Linked DNA regions of Homo sapiens. The protein of the gene in region 1 interacts with the protein of each later gene in a biochemical or structural test. Each region holds a gene or a part of one and is shown in the gene's direction. Other genes may lie near its edges.

Evidence for each region.
Region 2: the proteins of TAF4 (region 1) and CREM form a complex in vitro, tested with the Homo sapiens proteins (one study listed by BioGRID).
Region 3: the proteins of TAF4 (region 1) and ATF7 form a complex in vitro, tested with the Homo sapiens proteins (one study listed by BioGRID).
Region 4: the proteins of TAF4 (region 1) and AHR form a complex in vitro, tested with the Homo sapiens proteins (one study listed by BioGRID).

Annotation. Positions count from the first base shown.
Region 1 is NC_000020.11:62,059,073-62,063,706, reverse strand, and holds part of TAF4 (transcription initiation factor TFIID subunit 4), read left to right. Parts: intron 1-4,634. UniProt on the Homo sapiens protein: The TFIID basal transcription factor complex plays a major role in the initiation of RNA polymerase II (Pol II)-dependent transcription.
Region 2 is NC_000010.11:35,132,604-35,137,237, forward strand, and holds part of CREM (cAMP-responsive element modulator), read left to right. Parts: intron 1-4,634.
Region 3 is NC_000012.12:53,511,175-53,515,723, reverse strand, and holds the end of ATF7 (cyclic AMP-dependent transcription factor ATF-7), read left to right. Parts: 3' UTR 1-3,670; downstream 3,671-4,549. UniProt on the Homo sapiens protein: Stress-responsive chromatin regulator that plays a role in various biological processes including innate immunological memory, adipocyte differentiation or telomerase regulation.
Region 4 is NC_000007.14:17,332,331-17,336,964, forward strand, and holds part of AHR (aryl hydrocarbon receptor), read left to right. Parts: intron 1-1,581; coding exon 1,582-1,784; intron 1,785-2,556; coding exon 2,557-2,666; intron 2,667-3,314; coding exon 3,315-3,456; intron 3,457-4,634. UniProt on the Homo sapiens protein: Ligand-activated transcription factor that enables cells to adapt to changing conditions by sensing compounds from the environment, diet, microbiome and cellular metabolism, and which plays important roles in development, immunity and cancer.

The DNA of each region.
Region 1 (4,634 bases):
CCTAGCTACTCTGGTTGCTGCCCCCTCGGGAGGGCAGTGGGAGGGCGGTGGCAGCAGATGTTCTCGCTCCGTGCAGGGGTCTCGGGGCGATACTGGCTATGCTGCGGATGCCTGGGGCTCCGACGCCACTTCCGCCTGGCAGTTCTCACGCTCCTGTCTAGTCTGCTGTCTCTGCGACTCCTCAGGGCCCCTCAAGTTTGACAGGAAAGATTGCCTGGCCAGCATTGCTGCTTTTGTCTGGGGCTCCCCGTCCCTCCCCAGCCGCCGTGGTGGGTGCTGGGCAGGGGAGCTCCTCCCCGGCCTGTGGTGACGCGTGCCGTGCAGTTGTAGCAGCGCGGTGGCAGCAGTAGTAGGAACTGCAAGGAGAGCGTGGGTCCCTCCTGCGTCCCCTCTCTGAATGGAGCTATTGGTCACTTTGACAGGGTTGCAGAATCTTCAGAAGTGAAAGGATTTCTTGTCCAAGTATGTGAGGTTCGGGGCTGGTGGTCAGACTCTGGACAGGGCAGGGGTGGGGAAAGCCTGTCTGGGCGGCTGCTAGGCTGCAGTGCTCCAGGGAGGAAGAGAGCTGTGAAGCTACTTCCCGGGGTTGCTGAGACGCCCTTTACGACAAGCTTTTGGGGTACTGAAGCGTTTGTAGGGGTGTTTTGCCAGAGGCTTGGTTTTGCTGTTATGTGTATGTTGACCTTTTAGTAGGAAACGTGGCTGATCTTTAGTAACGTTGTAAAAAGATGTTTGATGGCTGTGATCTATTATGTAAACTGTCACAATGCTTTATTTATAAAAATGTTTTTCCAGAGGTCCCACGTGTCTCAGCGCAGGCCAGGTGCCTGTTGCACCCCTTTGGGTAGGTATTGGACTCTGTCTTGTGGGGCTGGCCAGGTCCTCTTGCTCTGAGCCACTGCAGAGGTAAAGCCTCATCTGTCTCTTTCTTCTGGGAGGAGGTGAAGGAATACGTGGTTGGAAGAGGGCATCTCTGCTGTGTTTATCATGAGTGATCCTGGGACTCACTTCCATCTTCTGTTTTAAGATCAGTTTTAGGGTCGGGTGTGTTTGATGAAGAGACAACTTGAAAAACAACTGTAGGAGTGTTGACTGTGCGTGATTCCTGTGTGTGAGGACAGAGGAACAGCTCACACAGACGTTTGGGTGGCAGTGCTGAGAGCGGTGCTTTCAAGGAGCCGAATGCTACTATCTAAAAAAGTGAGAGATTTACCCCATCTCTTCATGGCCTCCTGCAGTTGATCTACTGATGAGGAATTTTGATTATGTTATTTGTTTCAATAATAACCAAAGCAAAAAAAAAAAGTATCAATAAAACTACCAGTATCCCAAACCAGAGTACCTTCTTTTGAACAGTACAACTTAATTCTGTAAATCAGAATGGCAAATTGCAAATACTCTGGTTACTTCCTGTAATCGATTGATCAGAGAATATTAAATTGTTCTAGTTGGTTCCGTTTTCATTGAAATATTTCGTAATAAAAATGTTTAGAACAAAGATGGAAGTAACTTATAAAAATAACTCTTGCTTGGTTAATAACTCATTCTCATTACAACTCAGTCTTGCAAACTGAGGAGGAGCCGGGAGTATTAGGGGTGGGCAGGGTTCTCAAAGCTGCATGTGGGTGTCAAGTGGAGTAGCAGACGGGTGGCAATTGGATGGGGTGTGAAAGGGCCTGCCCTTCCCAGCCTTCCCTCCGTGGAGGTCTTGGGTGGGAGAAGGGAGGGGACAGAGGTTTCACCCTGAAGTCTTTAAGGCTAAGCCTTAGGCCCGAGTGTTTCAGCCCCATAGTGCACACCGGGTATGTTGAATTTGGTTTAGGTAGCTGTCATGATATTCTTTGTCAGGACAGTGTTGTAAAGACAGTTATGTTAATGTAATTGTAATTTGCTGGTTTGAGGTGCCAGAGTTTAGATTTTATTCACTGAGGAAAAATGAGAAAACTCAGTCTTTAGTGAGATTGTTGCAGATGACACAGTTGTCCCAAGATCACGGAAAAGCACTAGTTATGTACAGCTTAGGATAGTCATAACGTCATAGTCAGGTTGTGATTACAGCTGAAAGAAGAAAAAGGTGATTTGACACCCACATTAGCATGTTGGTAAATTGTTGAGAGATCTTTTCAGATCGGTGTAAGGTAAAGAAGCTCATTTCTAAAGGTTATCTTTTGGCCTGGCAAATTCACATTTTCTTCAGTGTATCTTGGTCTATTGTGCTTTCATGCAGAATTTACTCTCCTTTTGCTCTAAGATTTGGCCCAAGTGTAGATTCCCATTCCAGGACAGAAAAGCACTTTCTCACCATGGGCCTTGATCCCTTGGCCTAGGGGGCGTGTGCTTGCTGCATGTTTTAGGATGAGTACTCCCAGGTGAATGTGTGTCTGTGGGTGCTGTCTGGAGCATTGGTTCCCATCTGTGGGGAAAGGGGGAAAATGTCCACTAGCCCTTAATCGCGCTGTTGGGACGGGTTGGATTTGGCGAGTCCAGGCCCATGCTGGGTGGCGGCATGCAGACGGCCACCCCTGAGGTTGCAGGAGCTGTGAGTTCTGGTGGCCAGTGGTGGCAGCCAGTGCTCTGGCACAAGGGACATTCCTAAAAGTTTAGATTTTGTGACTTGAGGGCCCTGTTGCCGTTTGACCTGGGAGGAATATGTTGTTCCTCGGAGCCTTGGCTTACCCAGCTGTAAAGTGGGGTTGCCCTTTTGGTGAAGAATGTGAATTCTGTCAGGTTGGGCCAGATAACATAGCTGTCAGGTGGCGCTCACTATTCCAAACTCTCCCAGTTCCCCTCATTTTTCACTGATTTTCACACATTAATCCAGACTGGATGTTTTCTCAGTGACTGAGGTGTTTGGTGTGGCAGCTGACTGGTTCTGTCAATGGGGAAGTTACCGAGGTCTGAGGTGGGTCACCCTGGGGCGGTGGTTGCCAACATAGGGGAGGGTTGCAGTGGCCTTTGGAGGCCTGGACCTGGGTGGAGGGCTCACTTTAGGCTAGAGGCCTTAATCTGGTGTTTCTTTTGACATACTCAGGTAGGAGTGACATTTGAAAAGAACAAAGAAAAAGAACTTTTGGGGAGCTGTGTAAAGACAGCCCTGGACAGCTCTGCCTAGCATAGGGCAAGGGCGCCGCTCTGGGTCTTCCCTTCCTCCCTGCCCCCTGCCCCGCGGCTGGGGTCGTCACCATCGCCTTCGGGATGAACAGAGTCATCTTGGTGACAGGTTGGGATGGACCTCACCTGCCTTTGGTGTCTCAGAGCTGGTGACCCTCATGGCTTAGTGGCAGCCAGGAGTCGGGGTCCTGTGACGCTCTTAGGAGCCTCTCTCCTCACTGCTTACTGTGCCCGAGCACTGCATTCACAGCAGAGGTCTATGAGTTTGAACAGAGGATGACGTTTGAAGTTCGTTACGGTTGCCCTGGTTCTTAGGGCCTGTGAGAAGCTTTGTAGGAGAGGGTGTCCCGCTTGCTTCTGTGGCAAATGGACCTGAGGCAGGCCCCGGGCGCCTGGGAAGTTGGCCTTCTCCCAGGGCAGAGAGCAGAGCCACCCTGGCTTCCAGGACTGCCCCCGGGCTCCCCGGTGTGCTGTGGAAGTTGCCCCTTAGACATCAGCACAGGGAGGCCGGGAGGCGGCGTCTGGTCAGAGCAGCACAGACCGGGCTCAGCAGAACAGACTGGTGGGCGTGTCCGCATCCCGAAATCAGAGTGGAATGGAGACAGTTCCTGTTCTACCTCCAAAGCCTTTTCTACTGTATAATGTGAGTTTTCTTCCACTTAAGGGATAAATTTGAAGAAAGCTTTTATAAATTGTTGGTTGTAAGTGAGTTGATCAAAGCATAATTAGCAGCTGTGTTTGAGGATCTTGAAGCAGAGGTGTAACAGGGCTCTGGAGAAGCTTGCCTGAGATTTGGGGTAATTTGCAGGGTTCCCGAAGTGCTTTGCTTTTCTTCTTCATGGTGCTCAGTAGGAACCTCCAAGCCCTCGATCATCCAGGAAACAGTTGCTGTTTAGGGTGTTCACCTGTGGTGCCCGGCTCAGGCAGCGTGATGGGGGCGTTTACTTAATCAGGCCTTTGATAGCAATAAAGCAGTTAAATAAAGGGGGCTTTTGGCTGCAGGCCCTTCTGTGCCGAGTGCTGTGCACCTGGGCTTCCTGGACGCTTCTGCTTCCAGGTGGGCCTGCGGTTGCTATGGCATTGTGGTGTCAGCTGCAAACACGTACACAGCTGTTCTTTCCAATTCTTGCGTGGAATAATGAAGTAGAATAAGTGCTGTCAAGTTATGTTCGAAAATGGGGTGCTTAATATTTCCATGGTTGGACCATGAAAGTTTTGAGTGAAAACTTTTGATTTTTACATATCTCAAATGAACATTTGCACCAAAGATGTACAGCTTTCGAAAAACAAAGAGATACATGTTGTCCACCATGAGGCCCCTCTCCCATTTGAGAAAGTACCTGGTGTCCGCTGTTGGTCAGTCCGCGGTGGTCCCAGGCTCTTCTCCAGGCCTGCCTTCTGCCTGGAGCAGGCCATGCTGCAGTGTGCAGGATGATGTAGTGAAGTGCCCCCAGCTTCTCCCACCGTGGGTGTCATGTTGTGGAGCAGAAGTTGTCGTTGGGAACCGCGTGTGAGGGCAGGAG
Region 2 (4,634 bases), on another chromosome or scaffold:
TATTCTGTTTTTACATGAAAGCGTAAAGATTATTTTTTGAAAGTTACTGTTACTTTGCTTCATAAAGAGTATAAGACCAATGGTGTAATTTCATGGTACTGCTTTCTCCCATTGTTTTTCCTGTACTCATCTTCCCCTAAAATGCATAACCATAGTCTCATCCCCGTCAATTGCAGCTATATGGCTGTTTGGAATTATTTCTCTTATAACTAGTCCCACCTTCTCTTAATTTTTTAATCGACTTGGTTGAGAAGGACCAACTTTACAATATGAGCTTCATATTCTCCTTTATCTTTCAAACTTTATTGCTCTTGCTACTTAAATTACAGTTAACCTATGGATATCTACTTTTGCAAAGAACTAAAACCTTGCTTCATCACAGAACCAAATAAACAGATTGTATTTCTCTGTTCTCTTTCTCTTCCTGCTTCTGTAAAAGGTATGATACCTTTTGTTCCACATTCTTTTCTTTTTCTTTTGAGTATGCTAGTTGCAGTGCTTTCAGGTTTTCTTATTCTTTTTCTTTTTTAGCCTTTCTTTTAGAAACCATCTCAATAATGCATAATTTACAGTTTACATTTTTGGGTTTTTGAAAGTGGAGTAAGAACTTAGATTGTTTGGCAAGTGTCTTATAAAGAATTCTTAATTTAATATTTCCCGTAAGTCATAGTTATCTCCAATTGTAATATCTAGTCCAAAAGCAGATTTTTTTTTTTTTTTTTGAGACAGAGTCTCACTGTGTCACCCAGGTTGGAGTGCAATGGAGCAATCTCGGCTCACTGCAGCCTTCGCCTCCCAGATTCTCCTGCCTCAGCCTCCCAAGTAGCTGGGATTACAGGTGCCTGCCACCGTGCCTGGCTAATTTCTGTATTTTTTGCAGAGATAGGGTTTTACCATGTTGGCCAGGCTGGTCTCGAACTCCTGACCTCATGTAATCCACTCAACTTGGCCTCCGAAAATGCTGGGATTACAGGCGTGAGCCATGGCGCCTGTCCAAAAGCAGTTTGTTTTAAAGCAGAAAAAGCAAAACTGTGTTTATTGTCTTTCCAAAGCATTCAACTTAGTCTTCAGAGAAACAGTTCTCTTTTTGAATCATTTAATCTACTTAGTCATTTCATCTAATGTACAGTTTAACAAAATTACAAAATTGCAACAAGTGTGGCTGGCACAATCAGGTTTGGTGACAAACACAACTAACTCTTGGTAAGCACCCCTCCCTGTTGGAGTGAACATAAGTGCCTGGGCACACTAGAGAACTGTGGTGGGCATTAGCTATACTGTAGGCTTCACAGGAGTGGAGAACACTGTTAATATGGAGAGCTGGAAATTGGTTAAGTAAACTTTGGTATTCTAGTAAACTTGCCCAAGAAGTTTAATTCTTATATATACCTAGTTTTTCCAGAAAAGTTACATTAAGGTATTAATTTAACCACAGCAGGTAAAAGTTTTTTGTTTTTTTTTTTTTTTCAAGACAGCTCTGTTGCCCTGGCTGGAGTGCAATGGTGCTATCTCGGCTCACTGCAATTTCCGCCTCCTGAGTTCAAGTGATTCTCTTGCCTCAGCCTCCAGAGTAGCTGGGATTATAGGTGCACATCACCATGCTGGCTCATTTTTGTAATTTTTTCTTTTTTAAATGAGAGTCTCGCTCTGTTGCCCAGGCTGGAGTGCAGGGGCGCGATCTTGGCTCACTGCAACCTCTGCCTCTTGGGTTCAAGCAGTTCTCCTGCCTCACCCTCCCAAGGAGCTGGGATTACAGGCGCATGCCACCACGCCTGGCTACTTTTTGTATTTTTAGTAGAGACAGGGTTTCGCCATGTTGGCCAGACTGGTCTTGAACTCTTGACCTCAGGCGATCTGCCCGCCTCAGCCTTCCAGAGTGCTGGGATTACAGGGGTGAGCCACAGCGCCTGGCCTCAACATTTTTAAGTGTTAATTTAATACTATCTTTTCTCTATCAGCATATTGTATTTGTTTGCTTATATTATATGAGCATTTTCCAACATTTGCTTTATTACCCTCTCTGTAATATATAATCCCATATTCAGATTTCACCATTTGTTCCCAAAATGTCCTTTATAGCATAATCAACATATTTTAAATATCATTTGTATAGAAAGCTATATATTGAAGGATACCGACAGCAGTGAAATTGAGCCTGGCATGATGGCTCAAGCCTGTAATCCCAGCACTTTGGGAGGCCGAGGCAGGCGGATCACTTGAAGTCAGGGGTTCGAGACCAGCCTGGCCAAAATGGTGAAACACCATCTCTACTAAAAATACAAAAATTAGCCGAGCATGGTGGCATGCGCCTGTAATCCCAGCTACTCAGGAGGCTGAGGCATGAGAACTGCTTGAACCTGGGACGTGGATTTTGCAGTGAGCTGAGATGGTGCCACTGCACTCCAGCCTGGGCGACAGAGCAAGACTCAGTCTCAAAAAAAAAAAAAAGGAAAGAAAAATTAATTGAAGCTGTTGCACCACAGGGTGAATGGAGCAACATACTGGTGAAAGTAAGGTGAATGCCAACTGTTGTTTTTGTAATCATACCTAATAAAGTTTTTATCAGTGTGTTAGATGGCCTTCAAAATATGGCAGAGAAATCCATAACCAGGCAAAATAATTTTGGGTCTCATTTCTTCTTATAAGTTATTACTTGCCTATAACAAACTAATCTAAAATATGCCTTTCTGCTCTAAAAGCTAAAGCTTAAGAGTCCCTTGGCAGATGGGACTTTTAAATTATTCCTGTAGAAAATTGGTAGTATATAAGTGTTTTAATTTATTATGTGTTTTAATTTATTCCTGTAGAAAATTATTCCTGTAGAAAATCGGTAGTATATAAGTGTTACAGCTCTTAGAATTTGTCTAGCAGGCTCTCCGGTTTTTGCCAGAATGCCCACCACCCCCCGAAAAAAGAAAGTTGGTAGATTGGTAGTATACAGGATATATCAGTATCCTTTGGGTGTTTAGGTATAAGGAGATCTGCTTAGAAATTATAACTGGAGAGCTGAGTACAGTGGCTCATGCCTGTAATCCCAACACTTTGGGAGGCTATGGTGGGAGGATTGCTTGAAGCTAGGAATTTGAGACCTGGGCAACATAGTGATACCTATTTCTGGAAAAAAAAAAAAAAAAAAAAAAGAGAGACATTAAAAAAAAATGAGACAAAGAAGATAGAACAAAAGGCTAGATAATTTGGAAGAAAAGCATGAAAGTAATGTCATAAAGAATTCAAAGAGGACAAAGTTTCAAATAGAGGGGGAAATGCTGTAGGGGTATTGAGGAAGATGGGGACTAGAAAGCATCCTTTTAGATTTGGCAAGCAGGCAAGCGTTCATTGGTGACCTTGTGGAGAATAGTTGGAATGAAGTAAGTCTCTGATCATCCTGAGTCAGGGTCAAGTTTATCTTGTCATTATTCGGGTATGAGGCTAGTTTTTCTCTTTGGTATCTTGTGGCTCCCATGGCCGGAAGTTGGTGCTTTCTTCAGTGCTAGTTACCTCTAGGAAGAGGAAGCGGGCGGCTGTTCCTGGACTTCTCTGAATACCTTTTTCTAGTTTTAAAGTTTTGAACCACAAGAATGTATTACTTATTCAGCAAATAAAACATTTCCAAGTGAAATACAGAAATTGGCCTTTTTTCTATGATATAGTGCTGTGATTATCATTATTGTTCAAGTGCTATTATTATTTTGTTGACATATCTGCCCCCGCCTTTAGATTGCAGGCTCCTGGAGAGCTGTCTCCTGCAGTGCCCCAGTGTCTAGTATGAGGGGGTGGCATCTAATGGGTTATACAGTTGTTAAGGAGCATAAGATGTCCCTACGTAAAATGCTAGTGTAGCATACAATGAGGTTTGATGTCAGAATGGCATCAGTTCTGCTTTTTGTTCCTCTTGTGAGGAGCCTGTTCAAATGCCCTACTGTCTCTTGTCCCTATGCTGGGGGCACATGGTAGCAGTAGTAACCATCGCCTTAGTGCCCTTAGTGAGGTTTGATAAACCTGCCTGCTGCCTACAGTTCCAAATTTGACCAGGATTATATGACATCATTTAGAAGAACCCTTAGGAGGGAACTCTGAAAGCAATGTGTCTGTCTAAGCACTGCTGTTGCTGGCAGAGGTATCTAGAGGTTACTTAGGGATGAGCACGATTGTTTTCTCCAGCTCTAAAAGAAATTAAGGACTCTCAGTTTTTTTTTTTTTTTTTTTTGGGACTCTGTCTCAAAAGAGTTTAGGTCTGTGAATGGTCTTGCTCTGTCACCTAGGCTGGAGTACAGAGGTGCAAACATGGCCCATTGCAGCCTCAACTTTCCGCGCTCAAGTGATTCTCCCACCTCAGCCTCCTGAGTAGCTGGGAGTCCAGGCCTGTGCCACCATACCTGGTCAGTTTTCTTGTAGAGACAAGGTCTCACTGTGTTGCCAAGGCTTGTCTCAAACTCCTGGATTCAAGCAAACCTGCTACCTCAGCCTCCCGCAGTGCTGGGATTACAGGTGTGAGCCACCATGTCTGGCTCAAATGTTCTTTTGTCTTTTTCTTTGCCAGTTTTACTTCTTTCCACATGTCAAATATATATTTTTAAAGATATTAGTAAAAAATAAAGAGAGTTTAATTGCTACAGTGTCTAAACTAGGTTTTT
Region 3 (4,549 bases), on another chromosome or scaffold:
GAAAGTGCAGAACTGGTCCCAGCAAAGGACCCCAGGTTCTGGCCTGGGAAATTGGTGACTATTGCTCTCAACCATTCTTACTTTGAAGAGTTGGGTTGCAGAGGGAGCAATTCATCTCTCTTGTCCCTCTTCCACGTTAAGGCTTCTCATCTCCCCTTGGCTCTGAACTATGCAGTTTCTACCAGGACCATAGGAAGCAATTCAGAGCCAGAGGCCTGTGGATAGATAGGTCAGCTTTAATTGCCTTTCCGTATGAAACCCTTCCAGTTGTCCCAGAGCCACTTTCTGCCATCTGTGCAAGCCAAGAATGTCCTTCTCTCCATCTTTCCTACCTCCATCTTAAACATACATACAAAATAACTGCCAGCTTCCTTTCTTATTTTGTCTCCAAAATTGACTGTCACAGGGGAATGAGAAAATGTTCTAAGCTACAAGATTCCCGTTTCCTTAAAGTGATATCCTGTCCTAGTGAACCAGTCAGGTAACAGGTTCTGCTGCATTTGTTTTAAATTTCCCCTCCTGCTTTTCAGAGCTGGTGCTGAACAGGCCACACCCCTAAAGACAAAGGAGAGAAAACACGGTTTTCTCATCCTCTACCATCAGGTACCCAACAGGAATAGGCCCTGAAGTGATTCAGACTAGCAAATGTTATGGCAGATGGTCAGGACGCAGGTTACCACATCCAGGGACTTCACTTTTGCCTTTAAAAATTCACAGCCGTAACTTGTGCTCAGGACTTCCCCTTTAGCTGGCTGCTCCCTGGGATTTTCTCCTGCTTTAGAGTTTTGTTTCATTTTTTTATTGTCTTGATTTCCCAGTAGCAGCCTTGCCCTAAAGCTTGACTGAGTTTATGGCTCCTAAGGAGCTTTCCTAAGACTCTTGACTATTTTTCTTCCCCCTTCAGTCAAGTGTTTTTACAGTTAAGAATTAATTTGTAACTGCATACATGCCCTGCCAGTCTGTCCCTGTGTTGGGTGGCTAATTTATGTAGCGGGTCTTTTTTATTTCTTAGCCCCCATGACTAATTATCTAGTCCTAACTTCATTTTTATCAGTGGGAAGATGTGTACGGGACCTCAGTGAGGAGCACTGCCAGAACCACAGTAACAAAATGGCACTGAAATAAGGAAGCAGCAGGTCAGAACCCCCTAGATAGTTCTTGAGTTGGTTCTCAGTCTCACTAAGGAGGCAGAATAATTGCTGCCCTGAAACTTCTCTGATAGTCAAAGGTAACTTCACTTACCTTGTTATTGCTACCAGCCATGTGGTCACTCTCCCCAAATCTTTGTCTTCCAGATCCATCTGGACCAGAACCAAACATCATGGAAGGTGTCACTTGGCCCTTCCTAAAGTCCATGGCGTTTCTAGAGGCCTAAGGGAGGACACTTTCAGAAAGGAGCTGAGTGTATGGTGGGTGTCCTGAATTCGTTCATGTGAATACAGGACTCAGGCTTCCCACCCCACTCCAATGTGAGTGCTCGATACACAAGCACTCTAGCTAGCTGCCACGTACCCAAGGCCACAGAGGGAGGGGACAGAACCAGGTCTTCTGGTCTGCTCACTTTCTGCCCCATTCCCCTAACAGAAAGTTTGCTTAGAGTTGAAAAGTCTAAGAAAGCCTCCCACAATACTAGAGAGGCCAACAAAAAAAAAGTCATGCCCCCTTTACTTACTCTTTTGCTGCTGGTTATGCATCTCAAATCTGACTTCCTTAGCCTTCACCTCCCTCCTTGGCCCTAAGCATTAGACCATGTACTCTAAGTAGTGGTTAAAGAGGGACTGAGCAAACTGAACCTCCTCTCGCTCACTTCTCTATCCCTGTTCTGTTGGTTTTGGCTCCTTTCTTGATTCACTGCCCTCTAGCACCACCCATCCTGGTAGATGGAGTGCTTAACCCCAACCGTGCCCTATGTACAGCCTGAACCACCAAACAGACACCAAAAAAATTCTTCCTGTGGTTTCTGGGGCTCCCCTGCTCCACACTGAGAGGCTCCTTAAAGGTGCTAGCCCCTGATACAGCTATCCCCGCCAGTTTTCTCCTTTTTTCATAACTTCCTTCCCATCCCCAAATCATTAATTTTTCATTAATATTGTACATTATATACACAGGAAGGAAATACATTATTTTTTTTAAATTTCATAACCAGCCTGTTTAGATTCCAGTCTTCCTAGCTATATCACATATGCCTTGTTGATATGCTCTTTCTGCTTTCTTTAGACTTAATGTTTGACGGGGGTGGGGGTGTCTGGAAGAACAGGAAAGGTGGGGATCCTAAGGCAGATTAAAGGACTCCCTCCACCCCACTACAGCCTCCCATAACTCTAGTCATCCCTCTCATAGTACAGGACTGATTTCTCTGTGTCTGTTTGTACACACAAATGTGCATACAGACATAAATTCCCCCACCCCATACCAAGGTGGTTACCTAGCAGGAATGAGCGTAGGTGGCTGCTGGCCACCATTACCACCGTCTGCATCAGCTGTGTTGTCTCTCTTTGGGGTAAAGTCCTACCCCAGAATGAGAAAAGGCTGGGGAGAGTAGGGCAGGTTAAAGGAGCTTATGTCCTCTGTAGATGTAGGTTTGTATCATAGCTACTAGGGTTTATTTTTTTAATGGGGGGCTAATAGCACAGAGTTATCTCACCAGCAGTAGCTACTGGTGAGTGATGTTTTAGCTGTAAGAAGTGGCTATGAGCAATAGTTTCACTGACTTTACCTTAGGGCAGTGCCACAGTAATCTGGGAACTTGTTAGAAATACACATTCTCAGGCCCCATCCCAGACTTATTGAATCACAGACTCTGGGGGCAGGGTTTAAAAGCACTCCAAGTGATTCTAATGCACACTAAAGGTTGAGAACCATTTCTTAGGGATAAGCTGGGAAATTTTTACAGGTGTGGAGGATATTTCAAATACATCTTTTGCCTTTGCACTAACATGCTTTCATTTCTTTCAGTCTCTTCCTCCATTCCCTTTAAAGTCTTCCCCATCATATCACTGATCTCAAAAGCTAGATTTGTCTTCATTTTAGTCGTATCCCTAAAACCATGCATTGGTCTGGACAGGAGTTGTCCCATATTCCCTTGCAGACTGGTCACTCCATGTTCTCTGTTACAGTAAGGACCAGCCAAGCTTCAGCTGTCCCATTCCTCCCCCTACAACACACACACCTTTCAGGCAGGGAGGAGATGAGCTTCCAGCCCCAAGAGTGGAGGCTGCCACATCCTAACATAGTATCTATTGAAAAGGAAGCAGTGTGTATCTATGATTATATCTCTGTTCATCTATATATTTTTGACATGTAGCAACACCTCTCCATCTTATCAAGGAACTCAACTCGGTCTGGGTCTCCCCAGTGCCCAGTGGTGGCCTTTGACAGGTAGGAGGATGCAGTGCTGCAGGCTATTTTGTTTTTTGTTACAAAACTGTCTTTTCCCTTTTCCCCTCCACCTGATTCAGCATGATCCCTGTGAGCTGGTTCTCACAATCTCCTGGGACTGGGCTGAGGCAGGGGCTTCGCTCTATTCTCCCTAACCATACTGTCTTCCTTTCCCCCTTGCCACTTAGCAGTTATCCCCCCAGCTATGCCTTCTCCCTCCCTCCCTTGCCCTGGCATATATTGTGCCTTATTTATGCTGCAAATATAACATTAAACTATCAAGTGAACCACTGTTATGTCTGATGCTTCACTCCTCTATCCACAGCCCCCATTGTCCCCTTTTCTGGGAGGTCACTGGCCTTTCATGTCTGTCATCTTCATCACTCCCCCATTTCTTAGGACAGAAGGAACAGGGATTTTTGTCTCTAGTTTTTATACATGGGAGATACAGCCTAGAGAAAGTGGATGATTTCTATAAATTACAAAGTATGACAGAAGGCCCAGGGCAGAGCTCCTGTGGACTGCCTTGGAGACAAGGGCCCTTGGCATCCTGGCAGCAAGTACTCACAGGAAACTTAGTATGTGCTTTATGTGGATGGCGGGTGGGAGAGTTGCTGATGGCAAATGGCCTTTTACTTTTCAGTGTTTTGTTGCCAACCCCCACCCAACCATTAAAAAGTGGCTGTTGTGACCAGGGAGCACACACACAGACAAAGACGGAAAGTATAGCTTTCTATGGTAAGGAGGAGGCTGGTCTGGAAATGAGGGGTAGAGTTTACTTAGAAGCAGGTAAGAAAACCGGGCATGGTGGCTCATGCCTGTAATCCCAGCACTTTGGGAGGCTGAGGCGGGTTGATCACCTGAGGTCAGGAGTTTGAGACCAGCCTGGCCAACATGGAGAAACCCCGTCTCTACTAAAAATACAAAAATTAGCCAGGTGTTGGTGGCGGGCGCCTGTAATCCCAGCTACTCAGGAGGCTGAGGCAGGAGAATCACTTGAACCTGGGAGGCAGAGGTTGCAGTAAGCTAAGATCGTGCCGTTGCACTCCAGCCTGGGCAACAAGAGTGAAACTCCATCTCAAAAAAAGCAGGTAAGAGTTCACAAGAAAAACAGGTAATGCTCAGAGACTGTGGGAATCAGGAAGAGGTGTAGGGAAATCACAGATAATTT
Region 4 (4,634 bases), on another chromosome or scaffold:
TAGAATAAGGTTAACTGTAAAACAGGCTCAGGCAGGTCCTTCAGGAAATATTCCAAAAGAAGGCATTGTTATCACAGGAGATGACAGCTCCATGCATGTTATTGCCCCCGCAGACCTTCCAGTGGGACAAGATGTAGAGGTGGAAGATAGGATCATTAATGATCCTCACCCTGTACAGACCTAAGCTAATGTGTGGGTTTGTGTCTTAGTTTTTAACAAAAAAAGTTTAAAAAGTAAAAAAATTAAAAATTAAAAAATAGAAGAAAGCTTATAGAATAAGGATATAAAGAAAGAAAATGTTTTTGTATGGCTGTACACTGTGTTTAAGTGTTATTACAGAAGAGTCAAAAGTTAAAAATGCAAAAGTTTATGAAGTAAAAATGTTACAGTAAACTGTGCTGGGATTACAGGCATAAGCCACTGCACCTGGCCAAAAGGAAAATATTTTTTATAAATTCAGCGTAGCCTAAGTGTATAGTGTTTATAAACTCTATAGTAGTGTACGGTAATGTCTCAGGCCTTCACATTCACTCACCACTCACTCACTGACTAAACCAAAGCAACTTTCAGTCCTGCCTACCTTGTTTACAATAAGTGCTCTTATACAGGTATACCATTTTTTGTCTTTTATACTGTATTTTTACTGTATATTTTCTATGTTTAGATACACAAATACTTACCATCATGTTACAATTGCTTTAAGTATTCAGTACGATAGCATGCTGTACAGGTTTGTAGCCTAGGAACAAAAGGCTATACTGTATAGCTTAGATGCGTAGTAAGCTATACCATCTAGGTTTGTGAACCTACCCTCTGATGTTCACAGGATAATGAAATTGCCTAAGGACACATTTCACAGAACATGCCCCTTTTGTTAAATGACATGTGAGTGTATGTCTGAGGTGGAATATCTGTGTGCAGGAGGGCCTTTTCCTCCTTGTGCTGCTATTATTTTGATGTCAGAACCATCCCTTGGACTGGTTGATATTGTTTTAAGCAATTAAATATATCATGTTCATGTTTAAGTGCCTTTGTTTTCCCTGTCTTCTAAATTTCTTCCATATCTTTACTCAGTAGGGCTCTGCATTCTTTATATGTTTTCATGATGATTCATTTTAGTGTCTTAATAAAATTATATTTTGCCTCTATAGAAAAGATTATGAACTATGCAGTATGCTATGAGCTGTGATATAGTTCATGTATGCTTGAAAATGAATGTTTACTTTAGGACTTTATCACCATTCAGGATATATTGATTGCCTGGTGTGCAAGGAGCTGTGTGAGGTGAAAATGATAGGGTAATGGCAAGCTTGGAAAATGATATAGGTTTTCATGTTATGACCATTAGGAACAAGGAGTGGTTCACTTATCCCTTTAGAATATTTTTCATATTACTCTTTGAGATAGATTTAATGGGCGTCCCATGGAGAGAGGAGTGAAGGAAACTAACAGTTCTCAGCTTCAGGAATATTTATGGAATTATCAAGAACCCTAGAGGCAGCCATAATGGAGCCTTTTAAAAAGGCACTATTTTATATTGTTAATTTTAATGAACTTTTTTGTTGTTGTTGCTTTTTTAAGGCAATGAATTTCCAAGGGAAGTTAAAGTATCTTCATGGACAGAAAAAGAAAGGGAAAGATGGATCAATACTTCCACCTCAGTTGGCTTTGTTTGCGATAGCTACTCCACTTCAGCCACCATCCATACTTGAAATCCGGACCAAAAATTTTATCTTTAGAACCAAACACAAACTAGACTTCACACCTATTGGTTGTGATGCCAAGTAAGTGAGACTTTTTCACTTTTATTTTATTGGATGTACATTATGTTTCAGTAAGTCTCTCTTAGCATGTAAAACATACAGTGTATGTAATATTGTTTATTATTAGATTGGCTATTATCGTACATTCTTCCAGTGTAGCCTTTTACAGTAAAATAATTTAATCAGGCTCACAAATCATCTTTTTAATTTTTGCAATACTTGTCTCAAATGATGATGTTCTTATATATTAGTAAGGTTTATTCTTCTGATGACATTTATGTTGGTTTGTTTTACATTTTTAAATGGCACAAATGTTATTTGATTTCTAGCCCCAGAAGTTTTAGTAACTTTCAGAAAATTGTGAGCAGGAGTCTGATATTAAACATTTATATCATATCAAACATATCAGTGCTTTTCTCCTTTCTAATGTGGGAATGCAGAGAGGTAATTAGAAAAACCTTCTTCCCTAAAAATAGATTATAAAAACATTCCAGATTTTTATTAAAGATGTTCTGTTACCCATACATCTGCTCTATTAGATTCATTTTTAGCATACTAATTTCCATGGATTTATTCAGGAAAAGAAAATAGGCTGAAACTGAAATTTGCAATCATAAGCAAAGAAGATCAGTTTACATGGATGTGTTTAATTTCACATCTACTTATGTGAAATTCTAAATGTGAACTAAAACATATTGCAGAAACTAGCGTAAAACCAATGAATTTATCTTGGTTATTTCATTTATGTTAAATCTTAATCCATTCTTATTTTACCTTTTTTTATTTTAAACAGAGGAAGAATTGTTTTAGGATATACTGAAGCAGAGCTGTGCACGAGAGGCTCAGGTTATCAGTTTATTCATGCAGCTGATATGCTTTATTGTGCCGAGTCCCATATCCGAAGTAAGTTGTAGTTCCTTATGAACATGTCAGAAGAAAACGGCATATACTGTTGTACATGTTTCAAATTCTTACGTAATGTAAAGTGTTTAAGTAAAGTATATGGATAAACTTCTACTTAGTAACATATCATTATGATTAACCAGGGTTACACTCTTTGTTCATTAACTTGTCTACACCTGCCATGTAGAAATATTGTTGTTTAGTTATTAAAAAATGACCATTTTGGCCCATGAAGTTTTGCTTGGGAATTTTTTAATTACATCGTTATCAATTCATAAATCTATGTTAATATTGTAACAATAATAGTGTTAATAATTCTAGTTTAAAATTATAAAGTATTAGGCTGTAGGAAAATATTCCCTATTTAAAATGAAAATAATTTTTTCCCCAACTTATGTTCTCTCTATACTTTCCTGTGTTACTAGAATTGTTTGGTACATAATCTTCCCTTTAACATTTAAAATAATAAATTTAAAACAACTCTGAAAAACTATTTCCATGCCTTTTATTATTTTTTGTTTAAAATTTATTGTCTTTGGGGATAAAGGAAATACATCCAGAACTATGTCACAAGAGCTTTGTTTTAGGAATAATCTTTACTATATTGATTTGGGGGTTTGATAATTTAATTTTTTAATTTTATTTTAGTGATTAAGACTGGAGAAAGTGGCATGATAGTTTTCCGGCTTCTTACAAAAAACAACCGATGGACTTGGGTCCAGTCTAATGCACGCCTGCTTTATAAAAATGGAAGACCAGATTATATCATTGTAACTCAGAGACCACTAACGTAAGCACAAATAATGTTTCCTGTTTTAACAGTTTTGTTTTCATAAGTCCTCTTATGTGAAAGCATAAAAATAATTCAAGCAGACTTTAGTCTGTAAATAAAAATTGAAAAGTTTAATTCATCTAGAAAGAAGAGCACAGGTGAGAGACATTGAGAAGATAGAATTGACGAACTTGATTGAGAGCTACATGTGCAGAGCTATAGAAAGAATAATAAAACTCTAGGGTTTTATCTTGGGCATATGAAAGACACATGAAAAGCTAGTGTCATTGGTAAAAAAGAAGAAAAATATAACAATGCTTTATTTAGAATATATTCTCTAAACCCAGCAGTGATTTTAAGAGTTTCTTACACATGCTGCAGATGAGTCCTTTATCAAATATTTGTATTGCAAATGTTTCCTCCCACTCTGGAGAATTGATTTTTGTCTGTAGCTTGAGGTAAGGATTGATTCCCCCCAGCCATTATACGTATACCCAATTGACCAGTAACATTGAAAAGATGATTTACCGAGAAGGTCATTGTTTCCCGGCTGCGCTGTATTTTGATCAGGGGATTTTGTCTGTGGTTCTCTGTCTGGATTGTGTTGTTCTATTAATAGCTCCATTAGTGCAGTTGTCTATTTTGTCTAGCATTACACTGTCTTAGTTATTCTATCTTTATTATATATTTCTATGTCAGAGTGTGTCATTTTGTTTGTTTTGCCTTTTTTGTTCTCCTTCAAGATTGCCTTGGTTCTTCTTTGCCCTCTATAATTCCATATACATTTTAGAAAGCAGTTGTCTGAAAATCTGTTGAGATTTTGAGTGCAATTACCTTGAAACTGTAGATCATTTGGGGAGAATTAACATCTTTTTAATACTGAATCTTTGAGCCCATGAACATGATGAATGTATGTATGTGTATAAGTACCCATGGAAGTACATGAGTATGTGTGTACCATATGTATATGAGTGCATGGGTATGTGTGTACCTCTACAAATTTGTCACTTCTCCCTTGATCAATGTTTCTAGAAGGCACTTTTTTTAATTAGATTTTATTAGTCTTTATTAGGATCCAACTTTTGGTTTATTGATTTTTTTCTATTTTATACATTTGTTTTCAATTTTAATTATGTCTGCTCATTATTATTTTCTTCCTTCTACTTTCTTTGGGTATAATTTATCATTTTTTGCAA